3 separate regions of the Homo sapiens genome follow, and all the other regions are linked to region 2. The links come from fine-mapping of genetic effects on gene expression. A gene starts in region 2. Each other region holds a variant in brackets. All regions are shown on one strand. Distances are between the middles of the regions.

What was found. PIP is the estimated chance that this variant, and not a neighbour inherited with it, causes the effect.
Region 1: its variant is fine-mapped to the expression of PRKCQ in iPS cells (HipSci, PIP 0.95).
Region 3: its variant is fine-mapped to the expression of PRKCQ in whole blood (INTERVAL, PIP 0.98).

The regions. Positions count from the first base shown.
Region 1 is chr10:6,626,413-6,634,596 of GRCh38, forward strand. LINC02648 (long intergenic non-protein coding RNA 2648) reads left to right here. Exons shown (of 6, transcript NR_120634.1): 5 at 518-1,965. Among named protein-coding and RNA genes, the nearest start is that of LINC02648, 12 kb to the left of the region's middle. RefSeq lists an enhancer at 3,337-3,908. The variant T/C (reference allele first, on the strand shown) is at 3,379.
Region 2 is chr10:6,575,775-6,583,943 of GRCh38, forward strand. It overlaps PRKCQ (protein kinase C theta), which reads right to left and starts at 4,502. Exons shown (of 18, transcript NM_006257.5): 1 at 4,437-4,502. It overlaps PRKCQ-AS1 (PRKCQ antisense RNA 1), which reads left to right and starts at 4,651. Exons shown (of 2, transcript NR_036503.1): 1 at 4,651-5,153; 2 at 7,902-8,169. RefSeq lists silencers at 4,504-4,753, 4,764-4,913 and an enhancer at 7,713-8,007.
Region 3 is chr10:6,484,719-6,492,902 of GRCh38, forward strand. It overlaps PRKCQ (protein kinase C theta), which reads right to left. Exons shown (of 18, transcript NM_006257.5): 8 at 6,965-7,094; 9 at 1,317-1,426; 10 at 434-551. It overlaps LOC107984202 (a long non-coding RNA gene), which reads left to right and starts at 7,751. Exons shown (of 2, transcript XR_001747350.2): 1 at 7,751-7,792. The variant T/A (reference allele first, on the strand shown) is at 3,720.

The DNA of each region.
Region 1 (8,184 bases), 51 kb after region 2:
AAAGAGACAAGCAATAAACAAAGCAAAGAAGTATGTTATCCATTGCGTTTGAGGGTAATTATGGGGAAAAGAAAAAGCAGAGTTAGAGGAATGACACCCGTAAGAGGGAATGGCAAGGGTTGCAACATTAAACTGGGTGGCAGAGGGGGTATGCTATGATGAGTGTATACGGAACCATTATATGGAGGAAATACACAACCGCTCAGGCATAATTTTTTATCCATTTTTTTGATAACTTATAAACCAGGGAAAAATAAGATATGCACTGTTTTATTTACTATATACAAGAAATCAGGTTTAGGTATGTTGAATCAATGCAACTTTACAGAAATATTACGTACATTCTTTATGGAAACAAAATAATTTGAAGTATGTTTTCCCACTTATCAACATCCTGTAAAATTTGGAAACGGTGATCACTGCTTTTTATACTGCAGAAAAGGAGGAAGATATGTAATTGGTCTGTATTTGTTTATTTACTGTAACTTTAATTGATTGTTATATTTTTCTGCCACAGATGCTGGACCGTGACACGAATGTGGCCATTTCCACTGTCACCAAGCTCCCCTAGGTCTCCATCAGCTTCAGTGACCTGGGCTCTTTCACTTCTCAGAGATGCTCATCTGTGCATCTCCTGTCAGTTCTCGCTCTTTTTTTTGAGATGGAATCTCACTCTGTCGCCCAGGCTGGAATGAAGTGGCACGATCTTGGCTCACTGCAATCTTCACCTCCCAGGTTCAAGTGATTCTCCTGCCTCAGCCTTTCAAGTAGCTGGGATTACAGGCGTGCACCACCATGCCTGGCTACTTTTTGTAATTTTAGTAGAGATAAGGTTTCACCACGTTGGCCAGGCTGGTCTCGAACTCCTGATCTTAAGTGATCTGCCCGCCTTGGCTTCCCAAAGTGCTGGGATTACAGGCATAAGCCACTGTACCCGCCTCCTGTCAGTTCTCTTAAAATAGCCGAGTGATCTTTCCTTCCCATTCATCTGCTATCTGTCTGCTGGCTCTTTCTTGCCAATAAAGACTCATTTTCTCCTATCTAGACTTCTCTGGCATGAGGAATGAGCCAATTTAATGCATGTCTTAGGTGGGAGTGTGGTGAGTTGCGGAAAGGAGGTTTGGGGAGCTGGATTCTCTGTGAAAACGTGTAGCAAGGAGAAAGGTCACTGGGGAGATTATCATCTGCAAGGCATGAGAGGCTGTTCTATTGTCATTCACATGTCATCAGCCCAGTTATTAATACTTTCCTTCCTCTACCCCCTTGTCGTTGTTAAGGAGTTCCTTGGAAAAAACAAGTACTTTCCCTCCCCTGGTTGGTGTCTCTGTGTCTTCAAGATACTGCCTATTTTTTTGAGGTTTCAACACAAACAGATCTAGTCATGGCAAAATGGTGACATTAATTCTGACTTCCCAGCTTCAACACTCTTCCCCTAAGAGGCAGAGAATCCTAGCACAGTAAGGGGTCTTAATGTTCTGGTCAACCCTTCTTGCCCACACTAGTCATGGAAGTCTTTGTTGAAATGCCCCCAGTGAAAGGAGGTTCATTTCCACCCAAGGTAGCTCATTCAATTTTGCCACAACTGTGTGTGTGTGTGCGTGTGTGTAAATGTGTGGGTGCATGTGTGTATGTGTGTGTTGGTCCATGTGTGTGTGGCTTCCTCCACCCATTAATTGTAATTCTAGCAGTTGGGGCCATGAAGAAAAATGCAACAACTCTTCTGGGCAGGAGGCTTTTAGATGACTGAGTACTCTTTTGACATGTTTCTTTATTTCTTTACCATCGATCTCTTTCCTCCAGGATTAGCATAATCAGTTCTTGTTTTTTTTTTTTTGTTTTTTTTTTTTTATTTCTCTGAGAGGGACTCTTGGTCTATCAGCCAGGCTGGAGTGCCGTGGTGTGATCTGGGCTCACTGCAACCTCTGCCTCCCAGGATCAAGCGATTCTCCTGCCTCAGCCTCCCAAGTAAGTGGGATTACAGGCATGTGCCACCACGCCTGGTTAATTTTTGTATTTTTATTAGAGATGGGGTTTCACCATGTTGGCCAGGCTAATCTCAGACTCCTGATTTCAAGTGATCTGCCCACCTCAGCCTCCCAAAGTGCTGGGATTACAGGCGTGAGCCACCACACCTGGCCATTGCTTTTGTCTTCTTGCAGCTATCAGTGTGTACTCCAATGCTTCATAAATTTGAGTAAAATGCAGATTCCTTAAAATAAATCACAATATTATGCTCTCTCTCTCTCTTCCCCTCTCTTTCTATATATATATATATATATATATATATATATATATATATATATATATATATCTGATTACTGACTGAATTAGTTTTTATTATTTAAACCTAAGATTTAAAACCCTTCTGTTCATAGTCCTTAAACATGAAACTTAAAAATTAAGATTAAGTGTAGAATTAGCAATTTAACAGGACAGATTAAAATGTGTTTTACTGAAGCCAAATTATTTTCAATGTGAAGATACTACTACTATCATATAGCATGCATTTACATTGTTTATTGATTCCTTGTTATAACCCAATTCTCCTACCATTTGTTCTGTATATAAAATGAGGATACAAAATGTATTGTCTCCTCAAAGGGTTAGTGTGAGACTTGCACGAAATCATGCATATCAAGCACAATGCTTATTGCAGGATAATGGTCAAAAATGGCAGATATTATTACTATAATTGTTATTGCTGGTGCTACGTTATCATTGGTGCTTTGTCTGCTTGCAGATTCGAATGGAATACAATAAAACCTTGCTGACAAACATCTTTCAAGTTTAGGTCTAGTTTCCAGTCCCCATCATGACTTTTAAAATTTGCTCTGAAAATTCCTGGTCATGACTCTTTCTAAATTAAACAGACTTTCAAGTTGCATATTAAAACGTGGGTCACCTCAGGGCAAGCTAGAAAGCCAGGGAGGAGTTATAATGATGTATAAAGGACATTCCATGTTGCATCTTCCTCTACTTCTCTGAAAGAGCTCAAAATTAATGTTCAGAATCAAGAAAATACTACGGACCTGTCTTCAATATCGTGGCTGCCCCAAGATAGATAAAGTTTTGATTTTCTTTGTCTTTGAATGTAATACATGGTAGTTCCTTGAAGGTTAATGAACTGCTCACAGAGTTTTGGTATAATAAATCTTTACACAAACTTTCATGCGCGTCCGTGTGAAGAGACCACCAAACAGGCTTTGTGTGAGCAACATGGCTGTTTATTTCACCTGGGTGCAGGCAGGCTGAGTCCGAAAAGAGAGTCAGTGAAGGGAGATAGGGGTGGGGCCGTTTTATAGGATTTGGGTAGGTAAAGGAAAATTACAGTCAAAGGGGGTTTGTTCTCTGGCGGGCAGGAGTGGGGGTCGCAAGGTG[T/C]TCAGTGGGGGTGCTTTTTGAGCCAGGATGAGCCAGGAAAAGGACTTTCACAAGGTAATGTCATCACTTAAGGCAAGGACTGGCCATTTGCACTTCTTTTGCGGTGGAATGTCATCAGTTAAGGTGGGGCAGGGCATATTCACTTCTTTTGTGATTCTTCAGTTACTTCAGGCCATCTGGGCATATACGTGCAAGTCACAGGGGATGTGATGGCTTGGCTTGGGCTCAGAGGCCTGACATTCCTGCCTTCTGATATTAATAAGAAAAATAAAACAAAATAATGTTGAAGTGTTGGGGCAGCGAAAATTTTTGGGGGGTGGTATGGAGAGAGAATGGGCGATGTTTCTGAGGGCTGTTTCAAGCGGGATTAGGGGTGGCTTGGGAACCTAGAGTGGGAGAGATTAAGCTGAAGGGAGGTCTTGTGGTAAGGGGTGATATTGTGGGGATGTTAGAAGAAACATTTGTCATATAGAATGATTGGTGATGGCCTAGATACGGTTTTGGATGAATTGAGAAACTAAATGGAATAACAGAAGGAGAAAAACAGGTATAAAATGTCTAAGAATTGGGATGACTCAGGATATCTGATTAGAGAGTGCCTAAGGAGATTCAGCATAGTCCTGCCAGCAAAGATTATTTATTTACTTCAAGAGTTAAGAGTGGCAGTTTGGGGATAGCACCAGGAGATATCAGCTGTGATGGCTTGGAAAAACAGTGTAAACCAGCAGTGTAAACAAGAGCAGGGCATGTATGAGTAGTTGAGAACGGTGAATAGGAGTATGACTAGACAGAAGATAGTAGGGATGACAAGTTTTTTGGGGCACAGTCCAAGTTGGTCTGGTGTCTGGAATGAGACTGGGGCCTAATAAAAAGGAGCGTCTATACAAGAGCTTAAATGGGCTGTACCCTGTAGCATTCTAAGGACAGGCCTGAATTCTGAGAAGGGAAAGTGGTAAAAGTATTGTCCAGTCCTTTTTAAGTTGGTGGCTGAGCTTGGTGAGGTGTGTTTTTAATAGACCATTAGTCCTTTCTACTTTTCTTGAAGATGGAGGACCGTAAGGGATATAAAGGTTTCACTGAATACTAAGAGCCTGAAAAACTGCTTGGCTCATTTGACTAATGAAGGCTCATCTGTTATCAGACTGTATTGAGGTGGGAAGGCTAAACTGAGGAATTATGTCTGACAGAATGGAAGAAATGACTGCGGTGGCCTTCTCAGACCCTGTAGGAAAGGCTTGTACCTATCCAGTGAAAGTGTCTACCTAGACCAAGAGATATGTTAGTTTTCTGACTCAGGGCATGTGGAGTAAAGCTAATTTGCCAGTCCTGGGTGGGGCAATTCCTCGAGCTTGATGTGTGGGGAAGGGAGGAGGCCTGAATAATCCCTGAGGAGTAGTAGAATAGCAGATGGAACACTGAGAAGTTATTTCCTTGAGGATAGATTTCCACGATGGAAAAGAAATGAGAGGTTCTAAGAGGTGGGCTAGTGGCTTGTACTATAGCAAAACCTGCCTTTGCTGGTGTGTGGCGATTAGGCCTGGTGGAACCGCCATCAATAAATCAAGCATGATCAGGGTGAGGAATAGGAAAGAAGGAAATTTGGGGAAACGGGGTGAATGTCAGGTGGATCAGAGAGATAGTCATGGGGGTCAGGTGTGGTATCAGGAATAATGTGGGAGGCCGGATTGAAGTCTGGGCCAGGAACAATGGTAATTGTGGGAGGCTCAACAAAGTGTGAGTATAGCTGAAGGAGCCAGGAAGCAGAAAGTATATCCATCAGGTATGAGGAAGAAAATAGATTTTGGAAGTTAGGAGAACTGTAGAGAATGAGTTGAGCACAGTTTGTGATTTTGAGGGCCTCTAAAAGTACTAAAGCAGTGGCAGCCGCTGCATGCAGACATGAGGGCTAGGCTAAAACAGTAAGGTCAAGTTGTTTGGACAGAAAGCCTACAGGGTGTTGTCCTGGCTCTTGTGTAAGAATTCTGACCGCGCTAACCATGCCTAGGAAGGAAAGGAGTTGTCGTTTTGTAGAAGGTGCTTGGGTTTGAGAGATCAGTCGGACACGATTGGCAGGGAGAGCACGTGTGTTTTTATGAGAATTATGCAGAGATAGGTAACAGATGAGGAAGAAATTTGGGCTTGATTGAAGTAATGGGGGCTGTCTGTGAACCTTTGCAGCAGTACAGCCTAGGTAATTTGCTGAGCTTGATGGGTGTCAGGGTCAGTCCAAATGAAAGTGAAGAGAGGCTGGGATGAAGGGTGCAAAGGAATAGTAAAGAAAGCATGTTTGAGATCTAGAACAGAATAATGGGTTGTAGAGGCAGGTATTGAGGATAGGAGAGTATATGGGTTTGGCGCCATGGGGTGGATAGGCAAAACAATTTGGTTGATAAGGCGCAGATCCTGAACTAAATTGTAAGGCTTGTCTGGTTTTAGGACAGGTAAAATGGGGGAATTGTAAGGAGAGTTTATAGGTTTTAAAAGGCCATGCTTTAGCAGGCGAGTGATAACAGGCTTTAATCTTTTTAAAGCGTGCTGTGGGATGGGATATTGGCGTTGAGTGGGGTAAGGGTGATTAGGTTTTAATGAGATGGTAAGGGGTGCATGACCGGTCGCCAAGGAGGGAGTAGAGATATCTTATACTTGTGGGTTAAGGTGGGGGGATACAAGAGGAGGACACAAAGGAGGCTTTGGATTGGGAAGAAGGGCGGCAATGAGACATAGCTGTAGTCCAGGAATAGTCAGGGAAGCAGATAATTTAGTTAAAGTGTCTCAGCCTAATAAGGGAGCTGGGCAGGTGGGGATAACTAAAAAGGAGTGCTTAAAAGAGTATTGTCTAAGTTGGCACCAGAGTTGGGGAGTTTTAAGAGGTTTAGAAGCCTGGCCGTCAATATCCACAACAGTTATGGAGGCAAGGGAAACAGGCCCTTGAAAAGAAGGTAATGTGGCGTGGGTGGCCTCCGTATTGATTAAGAAGGGGACGGGCTTACCTTCCACTGTGAGAGTTACCGGAAGCTCGGCGTCCGTGATGGTCTAGGGGGCTTCCGAGGCGATCCGGCAGCGTCAGTCTTCAGCCGCTAAGCCGAGAAGATCTGCGAAGGAGTCAGAGAGCCTTGGGCCAGAGTTCCAGGGCCTCTGGGAGTGGCTGCCAGGTGAGTTGAACAGTCCAATTTTCAGTGGGGTCCCACACAGATGGGACACAGGTTAGGAGGAATCCCGGGCTGCGGGCATTCCTTGGCCCAGTGGCCAGATTTCCGGCACATGTAGCAAGCTCCTGTGGGAGGAGGTTCTGGAGGAACGCCTGGCCGCTGTGGTTCAGGCGTTTGGAAGTTCTTGGGTGCTGGAGATGTGGCTGGGGTTTGTCTCACAGTGGAGGCAAGGAATTGCAACTTTTTTCTATTATTGTACACCTTGAAGGCGAGGTTCATTAAATCCTGTTGTGGGGTTTGAGGGCTGGAATTTAATTTTTGGAGTTTTATTTAGTGTCGGGAGCAGATTGGGTAATAAAATGTATATTGAGAATAAGACGGCCTTTTGACCTTTTAGGGTCTAGGGCTGTAAAGTGTCTCAGGGTTGCTGCCAAAGGAGTCATGAACTGGGCTGGGTTTTTATATTTGATGAAAAAGATCCTAAACGCTTCTGATTTGGGATAAAGAAAAAGGAGCATTAACCTTGACTATGCCTTTAGCTCCAGCCACCGTTTTAAGAGTAAATTGCTGGGCAGGAGGGGGAGGGCTAGTCACTGAACGAAACTGTAAGCCGGACCAGGTGTGAGGAGGGGAGGTGATGAAAGGATTACAGGGTGGAGGAGCAGAGGCTGAGGAAGAATTGGGACCTAGCTCGGCCTGGCAAGGAGCAGCCTGGGGAGGAAGGGAGAGGTCAGATGGGTCTGTAGAAAAGGAAGATTAGAAAGACTCAGTGACGCTTGGGGTTGGTACTGAGGGGACAGGCGGGAGGGAAAGAAGGAAGATTTGGGACGAGTTGCAATGGGCACAGACTAGGAAGGGACTGATGTGTAAAAGAATACCTGGACATCAGGCACCTCAGACCATTTGCCTATTTTACAACAAGAATTATTTAGATCTTGCAGGATGGAAAAATTCAAAGTGCCATTTTCTGGCTATTTGGAACTACTGTCGAGTTTGTATTGGGGTCAAGAGACATTGCAGAAGAAAATAAGGCATTTAGGTTTTAGGTCAGGTGTGAGTTGAGGTTTTAAGTTTTTGAGAACACAGGCCAAGGGAGTAGAAGGAGGAATGGAGGGTGGAAGTTTCCCATAGTGAAGGAAGCAAGCCTAGAGAAAAGAGAGAGTAGAGAAATGGAAGGAAGGGGTTCAGGGGTTCTTACCTTCCAGAAAAGTGGGAAAAGGGGTTGGGGCTCAGAGATAAGAGGTCAGGGCACGGAAATAAGGGATGGGGCGCAGAAATAAGAGGTCGGGGCGTGGAAATAAGGGATTGGGGTGCAGAGATATGAGGTTGGGGCATGGAAATAAGGGATTGGGGTGCAGAGATATGAGGTTGGGGCATGGAAATAAGGGATTGGGGCACAGAGATATGAGGTTGGGGTACTTGCCCCTCCTCTAGAAAAGCGGGACTTGCCACTAAGAGTGAAGGAGAAGGGGTTGAGTGGTACTTGCCCCTCCCCCAGAAAAGCGGGACTTGTCGCTAAGGGTGAAGGAGAAGGGGTTGAGGGGTACTTGCCCCTCTCCAAGAAAAGCTGAGAAGGGGTAGAGACAAGGAGAGAAGGGGTTGGGGTACTTGCCCTGTCCCTGGAAAAGCAGAGAAGGGGTAGAGACAAGGAGAGAAG
Region 2 (8,169 bases):
CTCACGCCTGTAATCTCAGCACTTTGGGAGGCCAAGGTGGGTGGATCATGAGGTCAAGAGATCGAGACCATCTTGGCCAACATGGTGAAACCCCATCTCTACTAAAAATACAAAAGTTAGCTGGGTGTGGCAGCGCGTGCCTATAGTCCCAGCTACTCAGGAGGCTGAGGCAGGAGAATTGCTTGAACCTGGGAGGTAGAGGTTGCAGTGAGCTGAGATCATGCCACTGCACTCCAGCCTGGCGACACAGCGAGACTCCATCTCAAAAAACACAAAACAAAAGACAGCGTTGCTGAGAATGTGGAATAATTGGGACCCTTTCTACCACTGGTGGGAATGTAAAACGGTCCAGCCACTGTGGAAAACAATATGGCAGTTCCTCAAAAAATTAAACATAGAATTACCCTACGACCCCACAATTCTACTGCTGGGTACATACCCCAAAGAATTGAAAGCAGGACCTCAAACAGATATCTGCGTGTTCCTCTTCACGGCAGCATTATTCACAATAATCAAAAGATAGAAGCAACCATCAACAGATACAAGGATAAGCAAAATGTGGTATATCCATAAATGGAATAGTATTCAGACTTAAAAAGGAAGGAAGTCCTGTCCAATGCTGTCACATGGATACAGCTTGAGAACACTATGCTAAGTGAAATAAGACAGTTACAAAAGGATGGATACTGTATTCTGCTTCTGTGAGGTCCCTAGAGCAGTCAGAATCTTAGAGACAGGAAGTAGAAGGGTGGCTGCCAGGGGCTGAGAGGAAAGACGGATGAGGAACGAATGTTCCACGAGGACAGAGTTTCAGTTTTAGGAGATGAGAAGAATCCTGTGGATGGATGATGGCAATGGTTGCAAAACAATGTGAATATACTTAATGTCACTGAACTGTACGCTAGAAAATAGTTAAGAAGTTAAATTTTAAGTTATGTGTATTTTAACCACAATAAAAAAGTTAACTGGTAGGTCACCTGGGACTGCGGTTTAAAGCAAATGCTTGATGGTTAGACTAATCTGGATGGTCCAACTAACCTGACTCTACCACTGACTGGTTATAAGACCTGGACAAGGGGCTCTACCCCTTGAGCCTCAGTTTCCTCATCTGAAAAACTGGAATAATAATAATATCTAATTTATAAAGGCTTTTGGAGGTTAAATGAAGCAGTAATGCCTCTTACATATAAATAAAATTCTGAGTATGATATACAGCACATAAATTCTAAATAATAAAGACTCAAAACCATATTTCATTGGTTTTGTTGATGCTGATTATTATTATTATAATTAATACTATTAGCTTAATTCAAAAGCTAACATCAACCTACAGCAACCTGCAGAAAGATGTCCTGCCAAATACTTGCTAATTTAATCCAGGAGCAAAAATCTATGATTCTGGGCTTGAGTGAGCTTTCCTAATTTTAAAACTCTGATGCTCATTTTGTCCCCAAGAATGTGTTTAGATGACAGAGCAATCAGAATTTGACATGTATAAATGCTTGGCATGTTAAAATAATGAAAGATATTTTCACCATTGTAAGGAAACAGCTTTTAATCCATCTCTCTGGTTCAACATCACATTTTTCTATAGTTTCTCATGACTTCTTCCTTAACAATTGGAATAGGTATGAAAAAGCTGAGCTGAACACATAGCTGCTTAGAAATGAGCTGCTTAAAGTGTTAAAACAACAGAAACAGCAAGCATGAGTTTAATGCTATGTATGCCGTCACAATACTAATTTCTCTATTTTAAATTACAGATTACACACACACATACACACACACACGGAATCACGTCTATATTGCTGGGATTTTCATTATATAACAATATATCATTTTAAATGATTTGAGGCAAATTATTGAAAAAAATTAAAGACTGAACTCCATAAAAAGGAAATCACCTGAAATCAAATATAACCTTGTTAACAAACCAGCACATTAGCAACATTTTTAGGGGCAACAACATAATCAGCAACTCTAAGACATCAATCAAATGCATTAAAAACAGGAAGTACTAACTCTAATTCCTAATTTCCAGAAAGGCAAATATACCATAATTAAATAACACGTTATAAGGAGATTTGTCTGTGTAGGTCTACTTCTGAATCCCCGAAGTTACATACTTGTACCACAAGCCCATACTCTTGAAAGAAAATTCTGGACCCAGTCCACATGGAATTTTGGTTAAAACATCTAATTCATTGCAGAGAAGAATTTAGTCTTTTCCACGGAAGAGACAGCATGTGTTAGAATGAGAATACTTTATAGAAATGACCAGTGACAAGCCGGCTATGTAAGGGGGCTTCTGATGCCTGGCGTTAACAAGAGACAGAGAGTATTATTGTTGAAAGGGATCTTTGAGATTACAGAAGGAGCTGAGGTGTGAATAATCGAACACCATCCCCTTGTTGCCTGAAGGAGAAGTGAGACAGCAAAACAAATCAAATTTCCAGGAGCTGCACCGTGTATGGTGAGCGAAGACGCAATGAGGACATGTCTGTAGGAGAACAGAGGTAGAAGTTAGCTCCTCAAGTAACAGTTGCCATCCCGAGGCACCACAGCACAAGACAGTAGCGGAAATGAACATGACAACGCGGATGGTGGGTGACAAGAGTCTTGCCTGGATATTGACATTTTTAAAGTGTAGAAGAAAATCGCAGGTCACTGAAACAAAGGCTGATGGTGCCCAGCAGGTTACTCTTGAAATCAGAAACAGAAGTTCATGAGAGGCAAGAAGACAGAAACAACAACTGAAAAACTTAGAGTGGATCGCTAACTTGCAGGAGCTGTGCAGCTTTGGCTTTGCAGGTTTTAGAAGCTCTCCCTACGCCACGTCTTTAAATATATGTATGTTCAATCAGCAGGAGGAAGGGACTAACAAGAGCCTTCTGCGGTAAGCACCTGCATCAAACAATGGCACTGATCTCAGAGGGATTTTAAACAGCTGTGCATAAACTTCAAAAGTAATTTGCAACCATATTAGTAAATGTCACTCTTCTTCCCGCTAGACACAGCACTTTTAAAAGAGATTAAGCATCCGCAGTAAGCCTGCCATTTTACAAGGGTTACCAAAGATAAGTTAGGGAAAATATGAAGATGATGATTCACAAGGTCGGGGTGTGGGGTGGGGTGGGGGACCCAGGACCTTAGGAATAGGGCTTGTCTATCACACAGCCTCGGGCAAGAAGGGCCCAGTGGGGACCATGGCTTCTAGGGAGCAAACCAAGGGAAAAGAGCAACGGAGTGGACCCTCCAGGCTTCTTGCCTCTCTCACGGAGCCTCACGAATCCCAGTGGTTTAGAATTTTCTTTGGCAAAAGAAAAGGTCAAAGAGGCCGGAGTTGACAGAAAGCATGGGCGGACTTCTCAGATCTTGTAGGTGGTTCTTAAAAGAATTCAGCAGGCTTGAGGTGTGCTCTCAAAGGGCAACTGGAACGTCAAGGACTTGGACACCAGGCACAGATGGTTCATTTCCCATGGACAGGAAGAGGGCACGGAGTGCTCCCTCTTCCCTCCACCTTCTCCAGCCTAGTCCCCCTCAGCCTGTGCCACTCCTGAATCATCTTTTATAGCACCACGTCCAGCCCGCACAGGGGCAGGACAGCCCAGGGAACAAGGCAGTCCTGTGGCGCTCTCCTTGCAGAAATGACCGGAGTCTCCCAATCCAGCCAGCCCGTGGACCTCTCTTCATGCCCACGGGGGAGTGCACACGCCTGTAGCATTCAACAGTCACTCTCCCATTGATAACGGTGGCTCTCGAAAATCCAATACCACAAAGATACTTTATTGCACAAACTTTGCTTGGTTAACCTGGCCCTCAAAGCTGGGGAATAACCTCACTTGAGGCTACAGGAATGAGCACGCAGATTTTTCTTTTTTTTTTTTTTTTGGTATCTTTCAAAGACCTGCCTCCCCCTCCCCCAGGCCCTTGACCAGAAACTTGGCTTGTTTAGAAGCCTGAGCAATGGCACCCCCGTCCGTGCTCCAATACATTCCCAGAAAAGGGGTTATGCTCCCCTGTGGACAGGATACCATCTCCAGAAAACATGTTTCCTCACGCATTTTTTTTTTTTTTTTTTACCAAGAATACAAAAACTTTCCACCTTCTTCCCTCCCCGCAGGCCCCCTTTCGTTCAGGTGAGAAGGAAAAGGGAGAAGAAAGGAGGAAGCGCCCCCAGGCCGGCGGCCCCCACCCGGCTAAGGTCGCCAGCATCCCGCATCCCGTGCGACCTGCGTCCCAGAAACCCAGCGGGGAAATTCTTCCCGGTGCGCTCTTGCGCCCGCTTGGTTCCATTTCCTACTCCGCCTGCTCACCCGGCAGCCCTCACCCCTTCCCGGAGGCTCTCCGAGGGGCCCGGGTAGCCCTTCTCGCCACGGGTCTCGGCCCCTCCAGCCCGCTCCCTCCCGGCGGCGGCGCGGGGCGCGGGGCCCTACCTGGAGCGAGCACGGCGCCGCTGCTGCCCGGTGGCGCTGGGACTGCGCGGGGACTGCGCGGGGACTGCGCGGGGACTGGCGGGGCTGGCGGGGCTGGCGGGGCTGGCGGGGCTGGCGGGCCCGGCGCACTGCGGGTGCGCCTAGAAGGCGGTGCCCGCCAGGGGGCGCTCGCCAGCCTCCCCGCCAGCCCGGCCTCCCGGGACCCGGCACCTCTAGCCAGGGACGCGCGCTCGGTCCCCCGCCGTGCGCCCCCGGTCCCGCGCCCAGGCTCCCGCCCCTGGCCTCCTTACCAGCCACTTGTCGCCCAGCTGCGAACTGGAGCGGGAGGCGGCGGCCGGAGGGCCCAGGACAGCCCCGGGAGGGCGGCGAGGCGGAGCAGGAGCGCCCCGGCTCCGGCCACATTCTCAGAGTCAGGAAAAGGGGCGAGAGGCCACATGTCTCCCTCTCGCCCAACTGAAAACGAAACGGCGCTCCAGCAGATTGGGTGGAAAGAGCTGGGTCTCTTTTCTCTGTTTTTCACGCTAGAAAGGGCTTGTAAACATTGTTCCTTTTAAAATGACCTACCCCAGGCATTTGTTTGGGCACACTTCTGTCCTGGGGTCATCGTTCCTAGGTGGCTTCGGACCTGGGACTTTTCCTGTATCTGCACATTGTCGTTTTATACACAATTGCCAAGGTGGGACTGCTTTCAACTTTACTGTGCTTGAAGCTGCAAAGGTAATGTTGCCGCCGTGCGTGTCATTTTAGGACTTTTTATGCCTTGCGGGTAATACTAATGATGGTCACAGGGAGGATAAACGGGGTGGTTTCTTTTTCTATACTCCATGTAACTAATTTCTCATTCAGGTTAGAAAATTATATGTCTGGTTACTAATATTCTTACTGAATGGTTTCCTTGCAATGATGACACCAAATAATTAAAACGTACTTGATTAAGACTTTTGTTGCTGTAGTGTACTAAGATCAGATTAATCTGAGAAGTAAAATAGTAATTTTTTGTCCTTTTTTCTTTTCTTGTTTTGAGAGAGACATTAAAAACGATTAAAACAAAACAAAACAGGCCAGGTGCGGTGGCTCATGCCTGTAATGCCAGCACTTTGGGAGGCTGAGGCGGGTGGATCGCTTGAGGCTGGGAGTTTGAGACCAGCCTGGCCAACATGGCAAAATCGTGTCTCTCCTAAAAATACAAAAATTAGCTGGGTGTTGTGGCACGTGCCAGTAATCCCAGCTACTCAGAAGGCTGAGGCAGGAGAATCGTTTGAACCTGGGAGGAGGAGGTTGCAGTGAGCTGAGATCTCACCACTGCACTGCAGTCTGGGTGACAGCAAAACTCTGCCTCAAAAAAAAAAAAGGTTTAACAAAAGCCAAAAGTTGAATTAGCAGCCTTCTGATCATGGGAATGTAGGATGTCAACTAAAAAGAACCTCAGAGGTTGGGAAGGCAGATGAAAAACTGAGGCCCCGAAGTGTTTCAAGACTTGATTAAATCACTCAGGTCTGCACTAGGAAGCGAGTTATGATGATGCCCCTAATCTATATGAACCCAAATAAAGCCAAAACACACACACCTTTTAAGGATAAAACTATATTCCATTAAAATTAGCCCCGCATTTGTCAATATCTAACAGCATTGGACTGACCCTCAGGCCAGAGGCTGTAGCTCTTGGAAGATCCTAGCCAGGAGGTTTGAGAGTGGCCAGTACCTCGGAAGTGCTGGCTCACTCTGACATCATCAGAACCTGGCATACAGTAGGCGCTCATTGGGTATTTGCTATGGAAATTAGGCAGGAAAGTGCGTCTGTGTCTGGAAACAAAGAGGCAAAGCTTAAGCAGTGATCCCCATGCAGATTCTTTCTGCAAACTACAAAACAGAAGCTTCCCTAGTTCAGACTGCCATCCATCTGGCTCTTTCTCCAATTGTTTTTCAGCGGATCCTGTTACAGTGCAAAGAAGAAATGGCAAACGGATAACAGCTACTGTGCCTAGAAGATGGTAGATTCCTCACGCTCCATATCTGGGTTTCTCATTGACAATTAGGCACTGAAAGGAAGCTCATATGTCCTGTTAATTTAATCAGTAGTTAGTGGCTTTAGAAAAAGTTTCATATATACACCAGGTATGATAAGGACTTTTTTTTTTCTTTTTGAGACAGAGTCTTGCTGTGTTGCCCAGGATGGAGTGCAGCGGCGTGATCATAGCTCACTGCAGTTTTGATCCCCCAGGACTCAAGTTATCCTCTCACCTCAGCCTCCCAAATAGCTGGGACTACAGGCACACATCACCATGACCAAGCTAATATTTAAAAAGATTTTTTTGTAGAGACGGGGTCTCACTATGTTGCCCAGGCTGGTTTAAAACTCCTGGGCTCAAGTGATGCTCCTACCTCAGCTTCCCAAAATGCTGGGATTATCGGGGTGAGCCACCATGCCCAGCCTGTGATGACTTTAGACGCACTACTCATATAATATTCATAATCTGATGTGATATGTATCATCATCATTATCATCTCTCTTTAACAGAAGAGACTAACAAGGCTTAGAAAGGTTATGTACCTCGCTCAAGATCCCACAATTACTAAAGTACCAGAACCAAGATTCAAACCCAGGTCAGGCTGGAGCCACCATCTCAAGAGCTGCTGAATAATTAATTCTCCTTTTTTTTTTTTTTTTTTGAGATGGAGTCTTGTTCTGTCACCCAGGCTGGAGTGCAGTGGCACAATCTTGGCTCACTGCAACCTCTGCCTTCTGGATTCAAGTGATTCTTCCTGCCTCAGCCTCCTGAGTAGCTGGGATTACAGGCATGTGCCTGCCACCATGCTCAGTTAATTTTTGTATTGTTAGTAGAGACGGGTTTCACCATGTTGGCCAGGGTGGTCTCGAACTCCTGACATCAGGTGATCCGCCCACCTCAGCCTCCGAAAGTGCTGGGATTACAGGCATAAGCCACTGCGCCCAGCCAATTCTCCATTCTTACATCGTACACTCAGTTTTCTCTTTCTTTCTCTTTTGGACAACTGATCTTTGAGGACTCTTGGCTACTCAATTGTCCTATAATCGTATAGTCCTACAACAGGAAACCCGTTAACCTGAAGATCAGATCTTTTAAAACAACATCCATCATATATCTACAAAATTGGGATTTTTTTATCGTAAAATTTCATCTAAAACAAAAAATTCACATCTGTTCTTGGTATCCATTAGGTGTAGTGGACACCTCTAGATATTCTTGATGCCAGCATCCTGTAGACCCGCCATCTCCTTTCCCAGGCCATGGGGTGTTTCTGTTTTCTATTAGACACTGTCTCTTAGTTATATAAACGTGGCTGCTCTCAGAAGTTCTCCACACCTTTGTTTCCTGGAAGAGGAAATGGCATTTCCTGGAGGGGATGACACGTGGGCGGTGAGGTTCCACTCACTACGTTAAACACACCCTAACTTTCAGCTGTGTACTTCTTTTCCTCTTTCAGGTTCTGCCCTGATGTTTCCTGGAATAATGCTGAGGACTGCCTTTCGGGTAGCCGCCCTATTCAGTTCACTTCATCTCGGAAATACCTGACCCCTGCCTTGGATCCAGCGGCCCTCCTGAGAGCTGAGGAAGGAGGAAATCCTATGTGTCTGCTCCCGGAGCTGCCACAACCCATCTTCCCACAACTCGGAACTTGGAAAAAGGAACCCAGGACACGACTTTGCTTTTCTTTTGGACCTAGTTGGTGATTATACTCTGTCTCCCATGGA
Region 3 (8,184 bases), 91 kb before region 2:
AACAGTAGGCTGGAAAAACTGCCATAATGTCATGAAAGTGGCTTTGAGTCCTTCTCTTTCCTACCCTTAAATTTAAGTCTCAAAGGTGCAGAGTAAGAATGTCTTCTGTGGCCTTCCCACCATCAAATTTTAAGACAGATTTATTTCTGTGAAACCATTTGACACTGACAGAATGTAACATGCTGAAACTCTAAGAAAACATTTGTGGTTGTTCCCTCCAGACCTATCCCATTTTCTAACCCCCACCTCCTGCCTTTTACAAAGGTAAAAGGTTTTAGTTTCTTTTCTAAGAAGTGGGAGCCTCTTAGTTGGTAGCTGGAGGTGGATCACCTATCAGACCAGGTAAGCTGATAACTTAAATCCAAGGGCATTAGGTTAGGGTTAATTGAGATTAATGACTGACAGTGATTAGACTGCTGATCAGGACAGCTACCTCTTTTTCCCGGTGTCGGTAAACATGGCGGCCTTGCTTCATTTTTGATGGAGCATGGGAGACCAATTTCAACCGGACCTTCTCTGAAGATCTGTTCAGTATCTCTTAAGCAGCGAGCCTGGATGACAAACAGAGAGTCAGACCACCCACCCACCCACCATTGATGGAACAGCTCAGCCTGCTAACGATGGGGACAAAGGCCATTTAAAATGTTTAAATGCATAGGGTCAACAAAGATCTCCTTATCCTCAACGTTCTTTTGGAACCCCATATTCTGGGAGAGTCTATCTACTGTATTTTATGCATTAGCCGAACACGTTTGCCTCCTTCACACTTTTCTGGGGCTGACAGGATTCTCTCATGCTGTCTACATCATTCCATCACAAATAAGGACAGGTAGTTAATGGATGGGAAAACAGCTGATACAGGCAATGCCAAGTCTTAAAGAGGGTTTATCCTTGGATCTAGGAATTCAGCTAATGCCAAAACAGTAAACAGCAGGCCAAATTTGCCCTGGACTCGGTGTTCCATGAGGATGATGCTAGCACATAAGTGTTTTCCCCCAGGCTATTCTATAACCCGAATATATTCACATAAAGCTGTCAATGAATCTTCAATAACTTTAATGAATTTATTTGTTTCTGCAATGCTCATGCCATGAAGAATTTAAGATTTTATAAAGATCTGCATAATACAAATGCATTAAATAAATATCTCAAAGATAGGGGGTGTGGGCATGGATATGAAAGCCAAGGGCAAGGCCGGTGCTCAGAAATACATCCCGGCATTTCCCATAGGGCTGCCACAGGTGAAGCAGCAGAAGTGCATGGACATCCTTGCTGAGCGGCCATGGCGGGAACGTGTCCACGGCACATGCTCCTACCTGTTGAGTGCTCTCAATCATGGCCAGCGCTTCAGCCATTAGCTTCTGGTTTATGCCACAAAGGTTGGCCACCTTTGTCTGGCATCTATGATGCACATTCATGCCACATGCTGGAAGGAAGAAGGCAGATAGTGAGCAAGAGTGGAAGAACCCCCTGGTGCTAAACAACTCTCTCTGGAGGTAAGACAGAGCCTTGCGGATAGGGAGGAAAGCCTAAAGTGCCACGGCTGGGAGGAAGTTGACCCTGGCTCTCCCTGGTAGTGATCCTCGTGCTGGAAGGGAAGTGAGGTAGGAGGTGGGACTCAACTCTGGAGGTGGGGTTCAGACGCCAGACCAAATTGAAGACTAGCTAAAACAGGGACAGGGCAGAAGCAGCTTTCCAGAAGATGCCCACCTGCGTGCCATGTCAGTTTAGTGTTGCCATGGCAACACCCAGACGTTACCACCCTTTTTCCAGGAACTTAATTTGCATGTAGTTAAAAGTGGTATAAATAGGATTGCAGCACTGCCCTGAGCTGCTACTCTCTGCCTCTGGGGTAGCCCTGCTCTGCAGGAGCAGTCATGGAGCTGTAACACCAACAGAACTGTAATACCGTTGGCCAATGAAGCTGTTTTCTTCTACCAACAGCCGACCCTTGAATTCTTCCTGGGCGAAGCCAAGAACTCTCCTGGGCTAAGCCCCACTTTGGGGCTCACCTGCCCTGCATCAGAAGAATATTCCTGCCCACTCCAGTCTGGGTCCAAAACATCCCCTTTCCCACCTGGGCCATGAAGAGCTTCCCCCAGCCTTTAGGTTGAAGCCCAGGAGGCAGCCTCAGCCTGCAGATGGATATCAGACGGTGGAGCCGGAGTGTATATGTGGGAAGGGATGGAGTAGGAGGAGGCTAGCAATGCCAGGAGAGGTCACGGCAGAACACACCTAGCAAGACTGGACCAGGCATGAGGACCTCAGCTTTGAAAAAAAAATCACAAACTCTACACACGGTGTGGAAACATAAAGCCACAGGCTTCACCAGTGTGGGCTTAGATGAGGAGGCCAACAGCAACCGGGTGTTTGAGCACATTCCCCAGTTTCCAGGCCCCTGTACCCATGCCTCCTGAAAACCTCGTGTGATTATGGGAAGGGTAGAGGGCCCCAAGGATTACTAGATGAGAATGTTAACTAAGTGGATCTCACAGTCATAAAGAAAGTGATATTTCTTGCACGCATGAACTGATGGCGTAAATTGACATCTACAACCTGTTATGAAAGGTAACTCGAAGAAAAAGAACCAAAGTTTTCTGTCATCTTTATAAGTCACATAAGATGTTAAAGAAAAAGAAAGAGGAGAGGGAAATACTCGAGCACCTGTCAGGTGGGTGGAGAACGGGGTGCTGGTGGCAGCTTGCACAGCGTGGACACTGTGTGACCTTGGGCAAGTCATGAACGCTCTGGGGGCTCCCGATTAAGGATCTCCAGCACTGGACTCATGATCTATACAGGATTCTAGCTTGGGGATCCTACAATTCAGGGTGAGTATTCTGATTCATGAATCTTGAAAACAGTAGCATAGAATCTAACTTCCATTGCCAGTGACCAAGAGATCCCTCTTGGACTGGAGAGCGTGTGCCCATGTGACTGTGTAAAGACAATTATTAGTTTTAGAAATTCAAATTTTGCTAATGAAACATCACCATTAAAGGCCAGGCGTGGTGGCTCACACCTGTAATCCCAGCACTTTGGGAGGCCGAGGCGGGCAGATCACCTGAGGTCAGGAGTTTGAGAGCAGCCTGGCCAACATGGTGAAACCTCATCTCTACTAAAAATAATAACAATAAAAATTAGCCAGGTGTGGTGGTGCACATCTGTAATCCCAGCTACTCAGGAGGCTGAGGCAGAAGAATCACTTCAACTTGGGAGGCGGAGGTTGCAGTGAGCTGAGATCGTGCCACTGTACTCCAGCCTGGGAGACAGAGCGAGACTGTGTCTCAAAAAAAAAAAAAAAAAGAAACATCACCATTAAAATACAGAAAAATCAGATATAAAGATTTCCAAACTCCAGCTGACAGAGTCTGTGAGTAGAGAGTGTTGTAATAGAAGCAGGCACCAGGTGCTATGACATCATGCAGTCTTAATCTTATCTGCTGATTTGCACATGTGTGTGCAAAGAAGCTTAGCACAATGACTGGCATCGAGCAGGCGCTCAACAAATACAACTTCCTTTTCATCTTCATCATTTATTGCATAGATGTAGATATTAAAATATTTAGGTGAAATTTGGGCAACCCTCACCTGTAGTTTTCACTGGTCCACTCTTCTTCAAATAGCTCAATAATAAAATAAAGCAGAATTTTCTATGTAAATAACTATTACTTTTTTTTTTTTTTTTGACATGGAGTCTCGCTGTGTCACCCAGGCTGGAG[T/A]GCAGTGGCACGATTTTGGCTCACTGCAACCTCGGCCTCCCGGATTCAAGAGATTCTCCTGCCTCAGCCTCCTGAGTAGCTGGGATTACAGGCGCCCATCACCACACCCAGCTAATTTTTGTTTTTAGTAGAGACAGGGTTTCGCCATGTTGGCCAGGCTGGTCTCCAACTTCTGACCTCAAGTGATCTGCCCACCTCGGTCTCCTAAAGTGCTGAGATTACAGGTGTGAGCCACCGCGCCCGGTCAACTATTAACCATTACTAGACCGAGTATATAGGCATAGATATAGCCAGAAAAATTCACCTGAAGCAAAATCTTTTCTGCATATTTAAAATCTTTGTTGTTGTGTTGTTGTTCTTGAGACAGGGTCTTGCTCTGTTGCCCAGGCTGGAGTGCAGTGGTGCAATCATAGCTCACTGCAGCCTCAAACCCCTGGGTTCAAGCCATCCTCTTGCCTCAGCCTCTTGTGTAGCTGAGACCACAGGCGTGCACACCACTACACCCGACTAATTTTTTTATTTTTCGTAGAGATGGGGGTCTCACTTTGTTGCCCAGGCTGGTCTCAAACTCCTGGGCTCAAGCCATCCTTCCGCATTGCCCTCCCAAAGTGCTGGGATTACAGGTCTGTTACCGTGCCCGGCCTAAAATCTTTACTATAGAAAGGATTTTTTTTTTTCATGATTGTGCTCCAAATTCCACATTGTCGGCAAAACTCGCATAACTCACATTCGCCCTATTTAGAAGGTGTCAGGTTTCAACTTCGGTAGCCCCAGCTCCATTTTCTTATGCATCACCGTGACACCAAGTGAGGTTGTCAGCTAGGATTGAACATAGAGGGATGGAGTTTTACTTTGCTCCTTAAAACTGTAGCCACATCTAGGCTTCTCTGTGACTTGCATGGCCGCGAAGAAAGGCCACCACCATCTCCACGAGAAGGTCCTAAGTCTTTGTTACTAACCTATCAGGCCGTAACTCAGTTTCTTGGAGGGCAAAGAGTCCCTTTGGATGACTATTTTCTTGGGAATTATTGTGGGGAGAAAGAGAAGGCAGGGTAAAAGGCTAAGGAGGCCCTACTTAAGACGACGGCCTGCAAGGAGGCAGGATGAAAGGGAGGCAGAGAGGGAGGGAAGAGAGCTGGAGAAGAGGGCGAGAAGAGTCGAGAAAGGAGGACGCGGGGGCATGCGGGGTGAGCGGAGCAGGCGGGGTGAGCACAGTGGAGGGGCAGGGACCCGGGAGTGTCAGAAGCAAGAATGGAAAACAAACCAGGGCAGGGGAGGGAGAGGAGAGGGGACAAAAGAAAAAGGGGAGGGGAGCACTTGAAATGTAGGTGGTAGGAGAGAGCGGGGAACAGAATGGAGCGGAAAGGAAAGAGTATTCAAGGAAAGAAATGAAACGAAGCAGGCAGAAGAGCCATGAAATAACGCCCAGGAACCCCTGGGAAGTTCTAAGCTGTGCCGCGGCGCTGCTGGGACCAGCTCTTCTTGCAAGTGGATTCTCGGGCTCCCAGGACAGAGAACCCGACCTGAGACCATCACAGGAGAACCAAGAGGCGAGAATTTCTCCTGTTTCTGTGGATACCGTCAGGATGCAGGATGCCGGGACACTACGTTTTGTCTCTGACCTCCTAATGAACTCTTAATACCCTGCCTATCCATGTCTTCTTGAACAGGGGTGTAGAGAAAAGCGTGTCAGTGTCCTTTGGGGCCAGGAACGGATTCTTGAGGCTAATGTTGGCCTCCTGTGATGTCTGCTTTAGGTAATGATTTGAAAACCTAACCCCTCCTGCCTCCACTGAGAGGTCGCTCTGGGTTCCACCAGACATGTGAACAGGATTGGGATGAAGAAGGGGAGAATGCGGAAGATGCTGTGCCGCCTTCCATCACGTACCTCATTGCTCAAAAGAGAGGACATACATTAGTCAGTAGCACTGATCAAAATAGGGCTGCCAAGAAAAAATAAAGTGGCTTATATATTTAATACTTCATCATAAGAAAAGGTCTGTGCTCACCAGGCATGGTGACTCACTCCTGTAATCCTAGCACTTTTGGAGGCTGAGGAGACAAGATCGCTTGAACCCAGGAGTTTGAGACCAGCCTGGGCAACATAGCAAGACCATACCTCTAAAAAAAAAAAAAAACAAAGAAAAACAAAAAAAACAAAAACAGGCATGGTAGCACATGCCCATGGTCCCAGCTACTTGAGAGGCTGAGGTGGGAGGATTGCTTGAGTCCAAGAAGTCAAGTCTGCAGTGAGCTGTGATCGAGCCACTGCACACCAGTCTCCAGTCTGGGCAACAAAGTGAGACCCTGTCTCAGAAAAAAAGTAAAAGAAGAAGAAAAAAATCAGAAGCTGTCTGTATGCAACAGGTGGTTCTCCTTTTGTGGCTCTATTCTCTGGGCTCTGCCCACGTCTCTCCCCAACCAGAAAGCAGAGTGCCTTGTCAGTTCTTGAGGGTTTTTTTTTTTCTTCCCTAGTCCTTAATCCTAGTGTAACAGCATCTCAGCTTCTAAACGTTATCGCCTTAGCAACTTGGAGTTGTACAGCAAGAAAGCCTTGCCTTGTTTCCTTTTTTGATGGTAGGTCTGAGAAACTCCATCAATAATGAATGGCAGGTTAGGCTCTGCTGCGATCCTGGCCTTGGAGGAAAGACCAGAAAACAGGCAATGACGGTCACAACCGGGCCAGCCTCTTACTGGGCACTTGGAGTTCACAGCAATGGTTTAGGGATGGATGCTCAAGCTAATGTTACAGAATTTCTGTGCAGGACCATGTGTCAGCCAAATGAATGTGCTGGGCTTGCTCCTTGATGAGATGACAGAAAGAATCTTACTGGCTGGTGCAAAGGAGAAGGGTTAGGGTACCACACAGCTAGACCTGTTGGGATTAGGAAGGGGCAGCCCAGAGCCCACTGAGGAAACTAGTAGTAGAAAGACCAGTGAGAGGAGAAACACTGTCTTCATTTCCCCCAGGGCTATGGTACGGCAGAAGGTGATGGAGCTAGGAGTTTGACCTTGAACCTGAACTGTTGTGCTCTTTTCTGGGATGTGTGGGTGGGGGTGTTGCAGGGTGCAAGGAAAGGAACATAGTGGCTTATTGCCCCAGAAGACCATACTTATGATCATGACTTGTCTGGGCTGGGTGTGGAAGTGGTACCCCCTACATCCTCCCTCCAGTTCCCCAGAAAGCCTTGCTCCATCCCCTAGGGGGTCCACGTCGGGCCATGCTCATCCCCCACTGGACTCACCATCACACTTGAGTCCTTGCCGTGCCAGTCCCCACAGCAGGGTCCCACAGTGTTCACAGAAGGTCGGGCTCTTGTAATTGTAGACTTTAAATCTGTGTGGCATGTCAATTTTGAATCTCTCCTTGTGGAACTGAAAGAAAGGCAGAAGGTGAAATCTGTGTATTCCTGGGGCCCCGACTTTGGATGTTCTTGCAGATACCTTAGCATAACTAACAGAGATCATAATGAAAACACTGGCATTGTGTGCATTTTAAACCATCATTGTCACTTGTCAAGCCCTACAGTCATGCCTGAAGAAGGCAGGCAGCCTCAGCAACTGTACGTGACGGGGCATGCTTGCCTTCTGCATGTAGCAAGAACCTTGCAGACAGCTGAAATCTGAGGCATTCACACAGACAGGCTAAAAGCTCAGGAAGACTGCATGAGGGTTATTTTAAAAAGTGCTAAGGAAACAGTGCTCCCATTTAAATAGATGAAGATTCCCTTCCTGTTTTACTATAAATATTTCCTTTTCTCTTTCAGTCCAGAACTAGTGCTTTTAACCTTTGGAAGATGTAAAAAAAAAAAAAAAAAATGCCTTCTTTAAAGGAAACATTTCTATGGGTTTATCAGTATTACTGCCTAATGTGAGAAGCATTTTCACACCTATTATTCATGAACTGAGGTGGCAAGAGGAGGGAGCAGTTCCTGCCAGGTGCGGTTAACAAATATGTCACACGCATCATCTATTACATAGGTGATATCTCACGTAATCCTCAGAATACCCCTTTTGAAGTCGCTTCTATTAGTATCCTCCTTTGACAGACGAGGAAATGAAGCACAGAGAAGGTAAGAAACTTGCCCAGGACACGCAGCTCTAGAGCTGGGATATCTATAAGCTTGGCAGTCAGAATCAGAGCCCAGCCATTCTCTTTTCTGTCTCAAAATAAATGTGAAGGCTTATCGGGGTAGGGAGAGGGGAGTGGGAGAGGGATGCTAGTGATCGACATGGAATTTTTTTAAAAAACAGTTTTCCAGAGTTTAAATCAAACTTATTGCAGGAACAACAAAACACTTGGATAGTTGGATTCCTGGTAAGAATGTGAATATTCTTGTGCAGGATAAAATGCTTTATTTTCTAAAGGTTTATAATCTCTGCAGAAGTTTCTAATTCAACAGTTCCTTTGGGAAGGTGCATAGCAAAGATGCCTTATTCATCAGCACAGCAATAGATCTAACGT